2 separate regions of the Homo sapiens genome follow, and region 2 is linked to region 1. A link means that fine-mapping ties the variant in region 1 to the plasma level of a protein whose gene starts in the linked region. Region 1 holds a variant in brackets. A gene starts in the other region. All regions are shown on their reverse strands. Region 1 has its middle 87 kb from the start of FASLG. Region 2 holds the start of TP53BP1 (tumor protein p53 binding protein 1).

The links. PIP is the chance, under the fine-mapping model, that this variant and not a neighbour inherited with it causes the effect. Protein levels are from antibody-based Olink assays in UK Biobank. Linkage for the fine-mapping came from a reference panel and not from the study's own genotypes, which makes the PIPs less certain.
Region 2: it holds the start of TP53BP1, and the variant in region 1 is fine-mapped to the plasma level of the TP53BP1 protein (UK Biobank, PIP above 0.99).

Annotation. Positions count from the first base shown.
Region 1 is chr1:172,741,338-172,750,176 of GRCh38, reverse strand. It overlaps the pseudogene SLC25A38P1. Among named protein-coding and RNA genes, the nearest start is that of FASLG, 87 kb to the right of the region's middle. The variant T/C (reference allele first, on the strand shown) is at 3,615.
Region 2 is chr15:43,488,940-43,497,673 of GRCh38, reverse strand. It overlaps TP53BP1 (tumor protein p53 binding protein 1), which reads left to right and starts at 4,518. Exons shown (of 28, transcript NM_001141980.3): 1 at 4,518-4,637; 2 at 5,206-5,390; 3 at 5,579-5,672; 4 at 5,921-6,005. The coding sequence starts at 4,631. RefSeq lists enhancers at 2,080-2,580, 4,077-4,783, 4,784-5,492.

The DNA.
Region 1 (8,839 bases):
TTTTTTAAAGTAAAGCACTTTAATTGCAGGGAAAAAAAAAATGCCAGAATTTAGAGGTGAAACAATACAGGGGCCAAGACCAAAAAATTTTATTTGGACATTCAGAGGCTAGAAAGCCACTGTCCCGTTCCCCAGAGCCTCTGAGAAGTTGACTGAGAACCAATTAAAGAATGGCATCTATTCCTCCTCATCCTACCATCACCTCAGTCAGTCTGTGACCTGGTAACAGTGACTCCTCTCCTCACATCCAGTCCTCCCTGGCTGGAGCTCCTCAGGCCCGGCAGGCAGCTTACAGCTTCTCTGGCTTTGTGATTCCTTGCCCAAGAACGTACCCAAGGAGACCCTGTGGTGTAGGTGTGGGCCAGAAGCGCAGCCACCTGACAGAGCTCTCCTGGGAAAATGCCTTTCCAAGTAGCCTCTCAGGGTATGCAAAACTCTCTCCTAACACCCCAGTGTGTTCTATGTATTGGTGACTCCTCTTTTGGAGATTGTGAAGGCTCAAATCAGGTCCATATATTTTTCTCCTTAAAGGGATTACCGAAGGCAAAGGCAACACAATTTCTGCCTGGTTTTCCAGGTAGGACTTCATCTTACTGCAGAATAGTAAGCAGCAGCAGCCCTTGGCAGAAACCAAGCAGGGCAATAGATTTCACCCTTTCCCAGTCCTCTCTTGGTCAGGACTTCAGGCCCATCTTGGCCATCATCTCTTCATACACCATCTACGCCATTGCTGCCATTAGAGTTCTGCAGAGGGCTCGGGGGATGCCACCTTGGAAGAAGCCACGTAGTCCATAGTCTTTGAAAGTAAGTGTCACTGCTTGGCCAATCCATTGAAACTTCAGTGGGTAAAGCTGCATATGAGTTTTGATAACATCCGCAGGTTGAGTTACCAGTGAGGCGAGAATACCAGCAAATATCCCACAGCTGAAATTTGTAATAGGAATAAAGGTTGCATCCACCTGGTCATGGGGCACTATGTTTTTGGTCTGGTTGTAAAACATCAGGTAGTTTCCTGAAAAGGGCATATCTCGAAGGAGAGTTGCTGTCAGGCCACTGAAGAGGCCCCGGTGCCCCTCACTGCGATAGATGCTCCTCACGGCAGCGTAGATACTCTCATAGCCATATTTCCCACTCTCATAGCACATCTTGATTACAGTGATGGGTAACATACAGACCCCTGCAACAGAGAGAGAGCCCACCCCCAGCATGATTGACTCCAGGGCGGTTGGGGGATGGCCTCGCAAGAAATACCGCTTCAAAGACTAGAGAGTGCCAAAGTAGATTCCAACGCCAGGGACACATCTCACAACGGAAGGGGACATCCCTTTCCAAAGGCCTAAAAGACTCTCCGTGTGAACCACCTTCAAGAGTACAGCCAACATCCCAACACGTCTAGACCCATGATCTGAGGGCTGGAGGGTTTGCAGGCGTGTTTTAAGGAGATCCAGAGGTTGGAAAAGGAGGGTAGAGCAGGTTCCACTGATGGAGCCACACAGGAAAGCCTTGATCACCAGATGTAACTGGTGGTGCCTCATGTTTTCTTCATACCATAAGCGTTTCCACTGTGTCTCTGACATCTTGGGGTTGCAGCAGTGACGAATGTGAGTTCTGAATCATTGGAGATGAGGCCCGCGAGTGCTCTGGGCCCAGGGTGCCGTCGACGGGTGCTTGGGCCCAGCCCTGGAGGCCTCGAAGAAGGTGAGGGGATGGCTTACTTTAAGCCAAGGGCTCTCTGACCTCTGCGCCTGTAAGCATGCAGCCGCCCGGGTTCAGATCCTGCTAACACAGGGGCTGCAGGCGCAGAACAATTCCGCCACAGGAATTACGCGCCGCTCTTCACCCGCGCGGCAGACTCCGCGGCTCTGCTCTCCTGCCCATCCTGCCCCGCCGCGGGCTTCAGCACCGGAGGAGATGAGGTTCTGTGTCTAGAACCTTTCAATAAGTCCTTTTCCTGCTTATATAATCTAGAGCTTATACCTATTAATTGCAACCAAGACTCTCAGCTAGAACAATATTTAATCAGTACTTGTATGTTATGATTTTAATAAATATATTTTATTAAGAAGTACAAATAGCTATCACATACTAAATTTCATAAATATTAGCAGTTTAGTAAGTCTCCCTACTGAATCTATTCCATCCTAATAGATGCTGCCACCTACTTTATAGCAACTACCAAATGACAGGCCTAGTACCTAACAAAAGTTAAAAGGGGGACTTGCCTTGCCTTGAAAATTCAGCCCCCTGTAATCCCAGCCCTTTGGGAGGCCAAGGCAGGCAGATGGCTTGAGTCCAGGAGTTCACAGACCAGCCTGGGCAACATGATGAAACTCCGTCTCTACAAAAAATACAAAAATTAGCCGGGCTTGGTGGTGCATACTTGTAGTTCCAACTACTCAGGAGGCTGAGGTGTGAAGATCGCTTGAGCCTGGGAGGCAGAGGTTGCAGTGAGCTGTGATCACTCTAGCCTGGGCAACAGAGCAAGACGCCATCTCAAAAAAAAGAAGGAAGGAAGGAAGGAAGGAAGGAAGGAAAGAAAGAAAGAAAGAAAGAAAGAAAGAAAGAAAGAAAGAAAGAAAGAAAGAAAGAGAAAATAGAAAAGGAAATTCAGTCCCGTGAAGTAATAGCAATTTTTATATACTTGTGAAATATAAACTGTCTTGAATATCTCACTAATTATTTAATACATGCTGCTTCACTACTGGGCTTTTCTTATTCTCTCCAATTGCCCAAATGACTTACCAAGGCAATAGGTAGTGATGATGGCTCAGTGATATAGAATTTGACAATAATTCTATTCGCGCTTTCTTGGACCCAGAGGGATTTAATTATTGAGGAAAGAAAGACAGTCTCCTTGATTGGAGGACAGCGGCACTCCTATGATTTGGATACCCAAGAGCAAAGTTAAATGGAGATTCTAGGGCAGACATGCAAGTGGGCTTGATCTCACTTATCTACTGTGATCTGACAGCAGTGGCTGTCAGGAGCATGGTGACGGGAAGTATCTTGAGGCTACATCCTGGCTAAGCAAGAAAAACATAAGACAATTAACAATGCTTGCAAGGATGCAGAAGTGGTGACAAGAGCCCATATTGGCTCTACATGTTATCATGAAAAAATTAACCAAATAAGACCACGAAGGAGAGTTAGATTACAAGAAACTCCTTATTCTGTATAGTGGCTATGTACAGCCTTAATTTTGATTCTCAATAGACCTGCTGAGATTTCTTAGGGCCTGGATGAATAGTCCAATATCACAAGCCATTAACATACATGAAAATTAAAGATGTAATACTAGCAAGTGATCCTCTTGGAAATGTCCCCATCAGGTTCCAGCTGACCAAATGTAAACTTATTTAAGTATGTTTGTAGATCTTGAGCTCTTAGCCACAAACATCACTTTAAATGATGAGTAAAAATAGATAAGTACTTCAAACATTGGCAAACACTCAAAGATTCAAAACCAAATGTTTCTTCCTAGTTTACCTTGTTTAAAAAGATGACACAAACTACTCCTAAAAACTAGTGACTGCCTACATTGGTAAACATTCTGGTCCTGGTGGCCTCTGGTGTTTCTTCCTTCTAGTCATGTTGTCCTTTTAAGCAAGGGTCAC[T/C]CTTACTCCTCAGAGGAAAGTCAACATGACTCACTTTCAGAAACTGAAAGTACACCATGTCCACATAAGCAGTGCTGCTTACTGTATAACCGCAAAACCACATCAGAATAAGTCAGCTGCTCAGGAAGGAGAAGAAGGAGTGAGCTGAACAAACTCACCCCCATTCCAGATGGGGAGACTTTAAGAGTAGCCACAGGCTTCTTTGTTAAGCAGAGACTTAGATCAGAGGAGAAATGTCAGTGGCAGGCAGTGCAAGCAGGGTCCCTGGCTTCTGGTTACTGAATACATTGAAACAAGAGCCCACTCAAGGCCCCACTGTAAAGCCCTGAGGTTTTGGCTTCATCATCTCTTTCCTTTCCTTTGGTACATTCTTTCCCTAGTTTTCATCTCTCTCTGAACGTCAGGTGCTCTCTTGCCAAACCTCGTGTTAAGTGATTTTGGACAGGGTTTAAAGAAGTGGATCTTTTCTCTGAGTTAGATATTGTTAGGATCCCATGACTGGGTATCTTAATAATTCTTACCTAGAAGGTGTGAAGAATAAAACGAGACTGACTAAAGCATTCCTTGGTAAAGCAGCAGCAATCTCTTATATCAATAAGGATAGGGGCACACTGGTCATTTTTGTGGTCACTTTTAGACAACGCTCTTGGTTTCATCTGTGCTCAGACAGGATTATAGAGTGGATTTTATTTCTTTCTCTATTGTGATCACAGAGTGCCTTTTCTGATGTTGGCATTCTATGAAATTGTTTCTACTCAACAGGAGAACACTGGCCTAGCCATGAGTGCAGCACTAGCTTTAGCAACACCAAGGTCTAGCCTGTTCTCCATTCTTTCCTTGGGACAATCCACTCTTCCAAGTGACATAAACTAATCAGAAGAATTAATATCAGTTAACAAGAGTTAAGGGGCTGGGGAGGGGGGGTGTTCCGTACTTGCATTATAATAGTGACCTTTTAGAGAAAAGGCTGACCCCAGATAAACCATAATAGAGAAACTGGGTGGAAGAAAATAGATTCAGGAATTCTCCAATTAAACCATATAGGCAACCAGCTCCTCTGCCACCATATTAGCTGATCCTACATTTCATACCCACAGTTGAACTTCCAGGTAATCAACTAAATGAGGTCCATTCATGTTACCCTACTGTGCAGGCTTTTGGGATGGTTTGCCAACCACACTTCTAGAAGTCTCTCCTTTCATACAGAATCTCCTCTCATCTGGCAAGCTAGTCTCTTCTTGTTTTTCTGGTTTCTAAATGAATTCATATTGGAGCTTAACTTGCCAACCCTTATGAGTTGCTTTCAGAATGATCGCAACTGTTCTGAACAAGCCACCCTTTCTTGCTTGACTTCCCACTACTTTGGAGAGTGATTGTGAATCCTTGTGACTTCTCTTCACAGTACTCTTCTGCCACCTGGTGAAAGTTCGTAACACAACAAGACACTAGAGTTGCCATTCACTTTCAACTTCTACACACCCTGACACCAACACTAAGAAAACAGACACACTCACAGATGTCAGTCCATAAACACCTTGTAGGCATCTGATGCTCCCAGAAGAGGCCTGTCCACTAGGATTTCTGGGATGACCCCTCACCCATCTCTCCTTCTTCCGCCTCTCTGAAGGAAATAGCTGATTGAGAAGGATCCAGTTTTTTGCTAAGAGTTCACATTGAGACTGGAAAGGAAATGAGAATAAAAAGTATCTGGACTTCTGAAGGGGCCACAGTCAGCTCTGTGGGATAAGTGAAGCAGGAATTCCTGAGGACATCTTGCTGGTTCTCACCATCTTGTCTATAGTTCGTCCTAACAAATAAATCCGATGTCAACATTTATATCAAAGAAACAAGAAATAAATACCTATCTGTTTACCTCCTGTTTATATTAGGCCAGACATTTTACTTAATCTTCAGAATAGCTCTGTGAGATAATATATATAATTGTATAAATCTATGGGGTACAATATGATGTTTTCATCTATGTATACATTGTAGAAAGACTCAGTCAAGCTAATTAAAATATCGATCGCTTCACCAACTTATCATTTTTTGTAATGAGAACATTAAAAATCTATTCTTTTAGTAATTTTGAAATATATAATAACATATTATTAGCCACGGTCACCATGCAGTGTAATAGAACACTAAAATATATTTCTCTAATCTAACTTAAACTTTATACCCTTTGATCAACATCTTCCCTTTCCCAACACCTTCCAGAATATGTTAACACTCCCACTTCACAGAAAGAAAATGAAGGCATGGAGAGGCTAAGCAATGTGTCCAAAGTGACGTCCCTGGTTAGAGGAAGAGTTGAGGCTGAACCTCAGAGAGAAACGCCCTTGCAACTGCTGTACTTTTCTGACTCTTGCTATGCCACCTGGAGTACTGATCACTGGAGGAGAGAAAGAGGGAAAGAAACTCCCTACCTCCTTCCTGAGTCGACATTCTGTACCTCTTGGTACTGCATTTCTCAGGCACCCTAGTGCCCTTGGACCAGATTCCCAGCTTCCATGGCCTCAGGGAACATGGAATACTAATCATCCTTTTCCTTTGTCCTGGATAGTTGTAATAAGGAATCAGCAAGAGAAACTGAAAATCTAAATTCTCCTTCAGATCTAACTATTAAAAAATATGAAGCAATTAATAAAGTATGTATGTAGACATGTAAATAGAATAATAATATTTTAAATGTAACCTAAATGTTTGAAGGAACTTTTAAATAGATTTAAAAAGAAAATTAATTTTTAAAATCAAAATAATTTCTGAATCTTTTCTGCACACGAATGAACCTTTAGGGTCATGAAAAAGCTCAAACTGATGTATTTGAGATGTAAGAAGGACACCAGAAATGGAGTGCTTGCAACCCAGCCACCTGCCCTGACTGGCCAGCCTGGTGGCTCCTTCCTAGAGGAGAGATCAGGTAGGGCTCACTGGCATGGAGAAAAGCTGGTAAGTGTTGCTCTCTTAGGGAATCTCTGAACATAAGGAATGGGGAACAAGGAGAGGGGGAAAAAAGGAGGAACTCCTTCAAAGGACACTTTGGTCTGAGTGGCATCCATGGCAGAGACCATGAAAGGAACTCACAGATGACTCTCTGGAATAGAGATCACGAAGTGATGATGGTTCAAGAGCCAACTCCATTCCCATAGATGTGTTTTGATTGACTCACTCAGTGCTTTGTAAACTGTGAATTAGTGCCAGCATTTACAAATCAGGAAATTTCATATCAGTTTGTATTTTTGACTTGTCATGAGAAATGGAAGATCTGGTAATGCCAGGCCCACATCCCCACGTGAGAACAAGCTGAGTCCATCCAGGCCCTTCAGAGGATCAAGTGACTACTGCAGGCAGGCTGCAGTAGTCACTCAGCTTCCGTCTGGGAACCTAGAAGCAATTGAGTCTTTGGCTTTTGATCCAGCGGTGGCTGGCCACCCCACCAGCAAAGAACAGTGTACTGCCCCTAAAATCTGCCCACCCACCTAATTCTCAGCCTTCAGACAGGGCCATGACCACATGAATGTAGAGGCTATGGCCCCTCACCCCATTTAAGGATGTCCATAATTTGGTTAATCTTTCTGTACTTGTCAACTTGTGAATTGTTAAAGGCCAGAAGCTGACTCTTATTTTTCTTTGGACCCTATCCTCCTCCCCACTTTCACCCCTCTCAGTTCCTAATAAAGTGCCTTGCCTATAGTAGACTGTCAATAAATGTTGAATACATTTTTTTAAAAAAATCGCTGAGTGGGCGTTGTCTTCTACTGCCATCTAGCGACCATAAAATAGAATCATGCCTAAACACTGACACACCTGTAGGAATCACATGTTCCTTGCCCATCCATCTATTCATCTTCTTTCTTCCTTCCTTTATTTTTTTCATATTCTTATTTTTTCATTCCTTTGTCTATTCATTCATCCTTTCACTCAATACATACGTTTTGCTCATCACCTAGGTGACAGACACTGTGAGCTATGAAGAATCAATACAAACGTGCATAGATACAGAGAACTCCTATTGCTAGCCAAGAGGGAACAAGTCCACTACAGCCACTGTCTCTCATGGATTACAACTGAAAATAGTGGACAAAACATAAACTGCAACTACTTGAGAGCTCTAAAAAAATTAAGAATGCAAGCAAATTAGGAAGGAGAAGCTAAGCTTGAAGAAAAATCCATTCACAGGTGAATTTCCTTGGTATTTTTGTTCTTTTGTTTTCCCACTTTGACTCAAGAGTGGTTCCATCATGGAAGCGAGCAGCAAAAGCTCTAAGAGTATTTCTGATCAGAGGGCCCAGAAAATAGGTCCCCATAAAAAGAGGACTGGGAAAAATGGGAAGAGTAGAAAATTCCCATCAGTTTTTCTATTTTTTCCCAGTTCTACACCAAGGGCAGCCCACCCATGAACCTACAATGTGGTGGCAACAATGTCTCCAGTACCTAACACCTTGAGGGAAAACCCAAATTTTGGGCCAGAGGAACTAGAAAGGAACCAAAAGGAAATCCTGTAGTACAAAAAGGGTAGATGAATCACTTTTATGTTTTATCTTCCTCTCTCTTTTCTCTGCCATTTTGCTCTAAAGGCAGCCCCGATCATGGAGAATTATGGGTATTATGGTCACTATAGCTTCAAGTTAAATCTTATCTTTCTAGTGACCACATAACTAGGAAAACAAGCCCTTGGAAGTCAGAGAATTTGGGGGAAAGAAATACTTGAGGGGAAAGAGCTAGAGAAGGAAATCTTCTAATTCTGTAGCTAAAGACACACTGGAGTTATCTCTGAGTAGCACATGCACAGACAGACCCAGAGCAGCACAGCAAAGGCCTTGAAAATGTAACTAACATTGGAATCACCATCCAGAAAGGTGAGCTAAAACTTGCAGTCTGAACCTAACAAAATTGAGTATCTACAAAAGCAAAATAACAACAACCAAAAAATAACCTTCCCCAAAGGACTTTATTAGGACATAGAGTCTCCCCATATAGTACTCAAATTGTCAATAAAATCCAAAATAACTTGACATATAGCACCAAAAACATCTAACCACTCGTAAGGGAAAACAAAATCAACAGATGTCAATCCTGCGATGACCCAGATATGGGAATCAGACAGAATTTAGAGCAGTTACTATAATTGTGCTTCTAGAAGGAACCACTTTTGAAATGGATAAAAAAATAGAAGTGCTCAGCAGAGAAGCAGGAGCTACAAATACAGAATCAAATGGTGA
Region 2 (8,734 bases), not on the chromosome of region 1:
TACTCTAGGTACCTCGTATAAGTGGAATCACACAATATTTGTTCTTTTGTGTCTGGCTTATTTCACTTAGCATAATGTTTTCAAGGTTCATCTGTGTTGAGCATGTTCATATCACTCTCGATTTTTATTCTATAGTACTGGCTTCCAGGAAGTTAGGAATTGGAAAGAAAGCTGAGATGGTAGAGAAGAGCCAGGATTTATCGAGTCACAGGATGAGAATTTTGAGGAGGGAATGGCAACAGCATCAGACACTACAGACGTCAAAGATAATGAGGTAATTTGTTGTTGTTTTTTGAGGCAGAGTCTCACTCTGTAGCCCAGGCTGGGGTGCAGTGGTGCGATCTCGGCTCACTGCAACCTCTGCCTCCCAGGTTCAAGTGATTCTTCCACCTCAGCCTCCTGAGTAGCTGGGAATACAGGTGCACACCACCATTGTATTTTTAATAGAGACGGGGTTTCACCATGCTGGCCAGGCTAGTCTTGAACTCCTGAGCTCAAGCAATCAGCCTGCCTTGGCCTCCCAAAGTACTGGGATTACTTGAGCTACCGCACCTGGCTGATAATGAGGTAATTTGACAAGAAAATTTTAGAATCAGTCATTAACATGTTTAGAGTAACTACTTTGTGTCTGGCATTGTGCTAGGCATTAGATTTATGGAGGTTGAAGCCAGACTGCAAACGTAGAGAAGTAGAGTGGACAGGAGATGATACTTGGATGTGAAGATTTGATTACTTCTATACAAAGAGGGGAGAGGCTGGGCACTATGGCTCATGCCTGTAATCCCAGCACTTTGGGAGGCTGAGGTGGGCGGATCACCTGAGGCCGGAGTTCGAGACCTGCTTGACCAACATGGAGAAACTCTGTCTCTACTAAAAATACAAAATTAGCCAGGTGTGTTGCACATGCCTGTAATCCTAGCTACTCAGGAGGCTGAGGCAGGAGAATCAGTTGAACCCAGGAGGCAGGGGTTGCCGTAAGCGGAGATCACACCATTGCACTCCAGCCTGGGCAAAAAGAGTGAAACTCCATCTCAAAAAAAAAAAAAAAAAAGGAATATATGATTGTTTTCCTATCATTAAATTTGGCACTTGTCAATTCTCCTCAGTAGAGTACTCTGCCACTGAGCTCCAAAACTATGAGTTTTCATAAGATCGTGAAGCAACTTTAAAGGTTGGTGGAATACCTGTGAGGGAAGAATAAGCTGGGCTAGGGTTCTTTTGCTTAAGAAGTCTTTGAGGAGGCTTCAGAAAAATACTCACAAACTAAGTCATATAGTATTTAGATTTGTTGTTTGATGGTTTGAAATTTATTATATAATTATAGGACCAAATGAGATGATCCCAACTTAATGACATCTATCTAGGTTTTAAAGATAGCAGTTAAAGACAATATGAGAGGAAATGGCTTTAAATTCTATAATAAAGGATTTAGGTTAGAAGATTAGAAGATTAATATTAGAAGAAAAATTTCTGACAATGAGGTTTGTTAAACTTTAAAGCAAGTTAACCTAAGATCTGATGAGCCTTCTCTGGGAGGGCTTTAGAGGTAAGTTAGATTTCTCTGTCTAAGGTGGTTTAGGAAAAGATGTTACCTGTAGACAGGTAGATGTGCTGTTGGTCCTTTGCAGTCTAGGAGTCAATAAAGGCCTTTGGCTCATCTAGCTGCAACCATTCTGCCTGTAGTTTATTTTTCTGGATAATTTAATGATTAATTTAATTGCCACACTGCCTAACAAGGAATTAATAGTTTTTCTTAACAGTTTTTTTTAAGATTCTTGTTTAGTAATGCAAATGGCTCACTCATTTATTTATCTATTTTTAGTCAGGCTGAGGTTTTTAGGCTTTTTTTTTTTTTTTGAGACGGGGTCTCACTCTGTCACCCAGGCTGGAGTGCAGTGGCGCGATCTCTGCTGACTGCAAGCTCCGCCTCCCGGGTTCACGCCATTCTCCTGCCTCAGCCTCCCAAGTAGCTGGGACTACAGGCGCCTGCCCGCGCACCCGGCTAATTTTTTGTATTTTTAGTAGAGACCGTGTTTCACCGTGTTAGCCAGGATGGTCTCGATCTCCTGACCTCGTGATCTGCCCGACTTGGCCTCCCAGAGTGCTGGGATTACAGGCGTGAGCTACCGCACCTGGCTTTTGTGTGTGTGTGTGTGTGTGTGTGTGTGTGTGTGTGTGACGGAGTCTCACTCTGCTGCCCACGCTGGAGTGCAGTGGCACGATCTCGGCTCACTGTAACCTACGCCTCCAGGGTTCAAGCAATTCTCCTGCCTCAGCCTCCTGAGTAGCTGGGACTACAGGCGCCCACCACCATGCCCAGCTGATTTTTTGTATTTTTAGTAGAGGCGGGGTTTCACTATCTTAGCCAGGATGGTCTCGATCTCCTGACCTCATGATCCGCCCGCCTCGTCCTCCCAAAGTGCTGGGATTACAGGTGTGAGCCACTGCGCCTGGCGGTTTTTAGGTTTTTATTGTTGTTGTTTCAGACAGGGTCTCACTCTCTTGCCCAGGCTGGAGCACAGTGTTGCAATCTTGGCTCATTGCAACCTGTGCCTCCTAGTTCAGGAGATGCTCTCACCTCAGCCTCCTGAGTAGCTGGGACTACAGGCACATGCCACCACACCCAGCTAATTTTTTTCGTATATTTTTTAGAGATGGGCTTTTGCCATGTTGCCCAGGCTGGTCTCAAATTCCTGGGCTCAAGTAATCCACCTGCCTCTGCCTCCCAAAGTGCTGGGATTACAGGTGTAAGCCACTGCGCCCAGCCATTTTATGTTTCGACAAACACACTTGTCAAGTAATCAAACAGATCTGTTTATTTGTGCCTCACTTGGGGAGGAAGCAGAAGCAGGCTGGAGAAGAAAAGCAAAAAAATGGTAACTTTTGGGGGATTTTTATGGGACTCAAGGTCATGATTTACTCATAACAGGACCTGGTTGGTTGTGCCCTCTCAAATAGAGCAGATGAACTCACTTTGTCCAGCTAGTGTAGTTAGTATTGCTCTAACCTGGTCTTTAAGTATTAGATTTGTTTAGTCACTGGTGTTCTGCAGCTTTAGGAGTGGAGTATGAAAAGAGTCAATTATAAATGATTTTAAGATTAAGAAGTGAGATGCATCTCTGTGTGGTCCATTTCATTTTAGCTCCACTAATAAAACATACTGGCGACCATAATTATATTCCAGTTATAGCAGTAATAGATTCTAGATTTTTCAGGACAGTTTCAAGGAGTCAGTCCTTTTGTTCCCATAAGTAACGTGTATTCAGACAACATGCTTTGAATTTGGTTTGGAAAATAGGATCACTGTAATTTATAGCAGCAGTGAGAAGACTGGTAGGAAGCTCCACTTCAGCTTTGCCTATATCACGTGCTGAATTGGGCATTTACAGAAATGGAGAATCATGGTTGGGCTGTGCCGAAATAAATCTGAGCCTGGGGTAGAAAGAGAAAACTGCCTCATATTGAATGCCTACTATGTATATGTTTGGCACTGTGCTAGGTGCTTTCCCTATTGACAGCTGCTCTGGCTAGAATTCTATCCTGGATCCAACTGCCACTTAAATAATATACCCCCACCCCTCAACAACAACAACAACAAAACAAACACATATGCCACATGGGGCTTAGTTCATTAAGACTCGTCACAGCTGCCACACCCTCTTTAAGACCCTGGCACCATAATTAGGATAATAGAATCTCTGGGTTTGGAAGTATCTTTGAGGTCATCTAGTTAGAAGGGGTGGCAGCTGTTCTCTTTACCATGGAGTTTGAGAATGACAGTGCTCAATTCTCTCAATGGGAGGTGCAAAATATGTCTGGGGCTGTAGTCTCTGCAGGCAATCCCATAAAAGATAAGGCAACGATAAACAAGTGTGAAGCTTGAAATACGTCCTAGGCGGAAAAGGGCAATGGGAAGAAATATGGCTTACTGGAGCCCTTATACAATGTAAAAACAAACAAATACTAAAAACGCCCTGGCAGAGATGTAATGTCAGGCCCTTGGATTCAGGGTAGAGGCCCACAAAAGGGATCCTGATTGACACAGGTTAACCCTGTGTCAAAGAAGAAAGAGTCTCTTCTGTTGGGTTCACCAGCTCTGAAGTACCTAGCCATCCTCAAGCCGCTTCTTCTTTGCCCTGTTATGAGAAAGCTGGGAAACTCTCTCCTTTTCCAGGAAAGAGGGTGAGGGACGGGGATTAAGGGGCGTGAACGAGAAAAAGCAGGTAGAGGTACTGAAATGTCTGAGTAGTGGTAAATGCAATCGTCCTGGAAGCAGGGGAAGGTATTTCACGCCCTCTCAAGGTCCCTTCGGTTCAAGGATACCGTCATTCTCCGGCTCTACTAAAGGGGAGGGCCTGCAACGTCCATGCTGCCATGGAAACGCGCCGCCGTGTTCCTTTTTCTTACGTGGGGCAGGGCACTCTGCCGCAGCTACCTATCATCCACGGGATTTCTTGAGTGGCGGGCGGCGGCAGCGAATGGACGATCCGATATTGTGTGACGTGACGGGAAAGGGGGAGTTCGCGGCCGGTGGCGGCGGTGGCGACAGCGGCGACCTAGGGATCGATCTGGAGGGACTTGGGGAGCGTGCAGAGACCTCTAGCTCGAGCGCGAGGGACCTCCCGCCGGGATGCCTGGTACTGTTTGGAGAGAAATGGGAGTGCAGTGGGCTCTGAAGGCCTGGATTTCGGGTCTGAAGGGATGGCTGACCGGAGGGGGCGGGGTGGCAAGCATGGCGGCGGTGACGGGGAAGGGGTTGGAGGGCCCTAAGGAGGGGGTGGGGAAACGTTAGCTAAGAAGGCTTGGTGGTCGTGAGGAAAGCTGAAAGGCTGTGGGGCCTCTGGCGAACAGATTTTAGAAAACATTCTTTTGGGGGGAGGTAGAGGCGCCAGAAGGACGTGGCGGGGGGGATGGAAAAAGGGGCGGGGAGAGAAGAGGTTAGGAAGGAGGGGAAAGGGTGTCTACGAGAAGGTGATGAAAAATAGGGAGGGATAGTCAGGCTTATTGTAAATAACGAGGAATGGTGACTTGGTAGGCATGATAGGAAAGTGCTTGCAGCAATTATAAATATAATATTCTAATTGGAGGAGTCCTGAAGTGGTCCCGTTTCCCAGCTCTTGTACTTCCGCCCCATTATTTAGGTTTAGACTGCGTGAGCAAGGCTAGTAGGTTACACGGAACTGATCTTTTGTTATTCCATTCCAGGGGAGCAGATGGACCCTACTGGAAGTCAGTTGGATTCAGATTTCTCTCAGCAAGATACTCCTTGCCTGATAATTGAAGATTCTCAGCCTGAAAGCCAGGTTCTAGAGGATGATTCTGGTTCTCACTTCAGTATGCTATCTCGACACCTTCCTAATCTCCAGACGCACAAAGAAAATCCTGTGTTGGTGAGTGATACCTTGTTTGAAGAAGATTGAGCAGATTTTTTTTTTTAAACCGAAAACCAGCAAACATAAGTATTTAGAAGATCATTACCTTCTCAATAAAGTTGATTGGAAAAATTGTTCACAAATAGTAGGTTTCATTTTGAACTATTTCATATATAATGGGGATATTTTGTATGTGTATTTTCTAGGATGTTGTGTCCAATCCTGAACAAACAGCTGGAGAAGAACGAGGAGACGGTAATAGTGGGTTCAATGAACATTTGAAAGAAAACAAGGTTGCAGGTGAGGTGTTTAAAGCTATCTGTCCCCTTTGCATTTTTTGGGTGCTCTTGTTGGTGCTGGGTGGATTTAAACTTTATGTGGTTGTGTCGAATGTATGTAAGGAAGCCTACTGTGGTATCTGCGTAGTAGTCACTCAAAAGTTGATGTGCTAGTGTCACTGATTAGATTGGTATTGTCTGTATTCCTGATTTTGTATTAAGGTTTGTTGGTAAATGTCTTTCATGCTAATATCCAGTTATTTTTTTCAGACCCTGTGGATTCTTCTAACTTGGACACATGTGGTTCCATCAGTCAGGTCATTGAGCAGTTACCTCAGCCAAACAGGACAAGCAGGTATACAGTGTTTGAAGGGGTTTATTTAAATGTATTATCAGATTTGTTCTTTTATCTGTACCTGTTGCCTCATCCCAAGGATAAAAGGATTAATCTCTTTCTTGTGGATTAGGAAATGGGACTTGAGGGTTGTATTAGATAGTATTGTAATAGTACTGATAGCTGGAAACTGTTTTGTGAAGGTAATAATTTTTATACCTACATTATTCAAATCATGATCTGTCTTGTGCATGTGAAACAAAATAAGCATTCCTCCTAGTAGAAAAAAATTATTAAAAAGTATTTAGGGGCCAGGCATGGTGGCTCATGCCTGTAATCCCAGCGCTTTGAGAGGCTGAGGCGGATGGATCACTTGAGGTCAGGAGTTTGAGACCAGCCTGGCCAACATGGTGAAACCCCATCTCTACTAAAAACAGAAAAATTAGCTGGGCCTGGTGGTGCGTGCCTGTAATCCCAGCTATTCAGGAGGCTGAGGCAGGAGAGTTGCTTGAACCTGGGAGGCGGAGGTTGCAGTGAGCTGAGATTGTACCAGTGTACTTTATCTAGCCTGAGTGACAGAGTGAGACTCCGTCTCAGCAAAAAAAAAAAAAAAATTTAGGAGTATTATCAGAACTATTAGGCATGTTTTCCATCTATCAACTGAAGTACCCCACCAGTTTTAGATCTAGAATGTTTAATTCTTACCCTAAACAAGATTCAATTGTTACCATGTCTTTTGCATATCTTTATAATACCCATTTTTTGAGTTCATGCTCTGTGTTAGGTCCTGTATTGGACGTTTGGCATATAGTATAATGTTATTTAATCCTATTCTTAAAGCAGCTGTACGATGAAGACATTACATTACTTCCATTGTATAGACGGGAAAATTGATGGACAAAGAAATTAGATAACTTGCTTTAGAGTACATTGCTAGTAAGTGGCAGAGCTGGCTTTGAACCTGGTCCTAATGACTCTAATGCCTCCTCTTTCATTCTAACTAATCAGTGCTTCTCAGTCTTCCGCCCCAATATTTCTAAGGTCCAAGGAGAATGTAGAGAACTTCAGGAGTTTTGGGGTGGTAGAAAGGGGAGGTGGTTAGAGAGGAGAATGTTAGCTTGAGATGGTTAAAGACTATTGTTTTTTCTTAAAAAGAAATGGTTTTTGGCTGGGCGCAGTGGCTCACACCTGTAATCCCAGCACTTTAGGAGGCTCAGACAAGAGGATCACTTGAGCCCAGGAGTTTGAGATCAGCCTGGGCAACCTAGTGAGACCCTGTCTCTACAAAAGAAAAAAAAAAAGGACTGGGTGTGGTAGCTCACACCTGTAATCCCAGCACTTCGGGAGGCTGAGGTGGGCGGATCACCTGAGGTCAGGAGTTTGATACCAGTCTGGACAACGTGGTGAAACCCGGTCTCTTAAAAATACAAAAATTAACGAGGTGTGGTAGCGGGTACCTGTAATACCAGCCACTCAGGAGGCTGCATCAGGAGAATCACTTGAACCTGGGAAGCAGAGGTTGCAGTGAGCCGAAATTGTGCCACTGCACTCTAGCCTGGGTGACAGAGCGAGACTCTGTCTCAAAATAAAATAAAATAATAAAAAAAAAAATAGCAGGGCATGGTGGTCCGTGCCTGTAGCCCCAGCTATTCAGGAGACTGAGATAGAAGGATCACTTGAGCCTGGAAGATTGAGGCTGCAGTCAGCCGTGATTGTGCCGCTGCACTCCAGCCTGGTTGATAGAGTGAGACCCTGTCTCAAAAAGAAAAGCTTTTTTGGAGGTGTGTTTTATTTTACACTCTGTGTCTGTACGTAATTTTTTTTTTCTCACAAATCATCAAGTAAAATAAATGCTTTAGAACAACCTGCAAACCGATGGGCTCATTGTGGCCTGCAGAAGTGTTTTATTTGGCCTACATAGGTGGTAAAATGTTAATATATTTGAATTAATTGACAGAATTTTAGAATGGGGAAATTTCTCATAAAACTTAGACTTCCAGCTTCTGGCATTTCTTGTTTCTGTTGGCAACAGTTGGCTGGAGTTATGAGTAGCAGTCAGCCTCTGCTTAGATGGAGCATTAGTGCTATGATTTGCCATAGTCACTACAATTCATTATTGTACTTGGACACTGAGGCCAGGTGTTCTTTTGTCATTTATCATAGTGCTTGTGCTTTTGTTCTTACACCCAGCTGCTTCACTCATCTATGTTATCTTGCTTTGATTTCTGTGGGCATTTAAGTTTATGGTACCTCTTTAAGAACATGTGCCAGGCTTATCTATGTTTTTGTGGCTCAGCATCCTGGTTTGAGCCAGTGGGGACAGGAAGTATGCACGTCCCTCATTGTGAATGAAGCAATGCTATTTGAGAAGTTTCATGCTACTTCTTTTCATGTTAAATAAATGTGCAGGCACTGTGGCATGTGCTTTAAAGGGGCTTTTGCCATTGTGGAGCTTATAATTTAATAGGAGAGACAGATGTTAAATGAGTCATTACATCAGTAGCTATTCCATTACAACTGTGATCATTGCAAAGAGGAGAAAAAATATATATAACGTAATCAGAAGGATAAGGGGACACCTCTTTGTGGAATACAATCTAAACAATAAATATGAATTTGTTAGGCATAGTTGAAGGGCTTGGAGGGCATAGTTGAAGAGCTGCACATTTCTATGTGCAGTATGAAAGGAGGAGCTGTCCAAACAGAATGAACTGTGTGTGCATAGGCCATGAAGCTGGAAAGAATTTGGA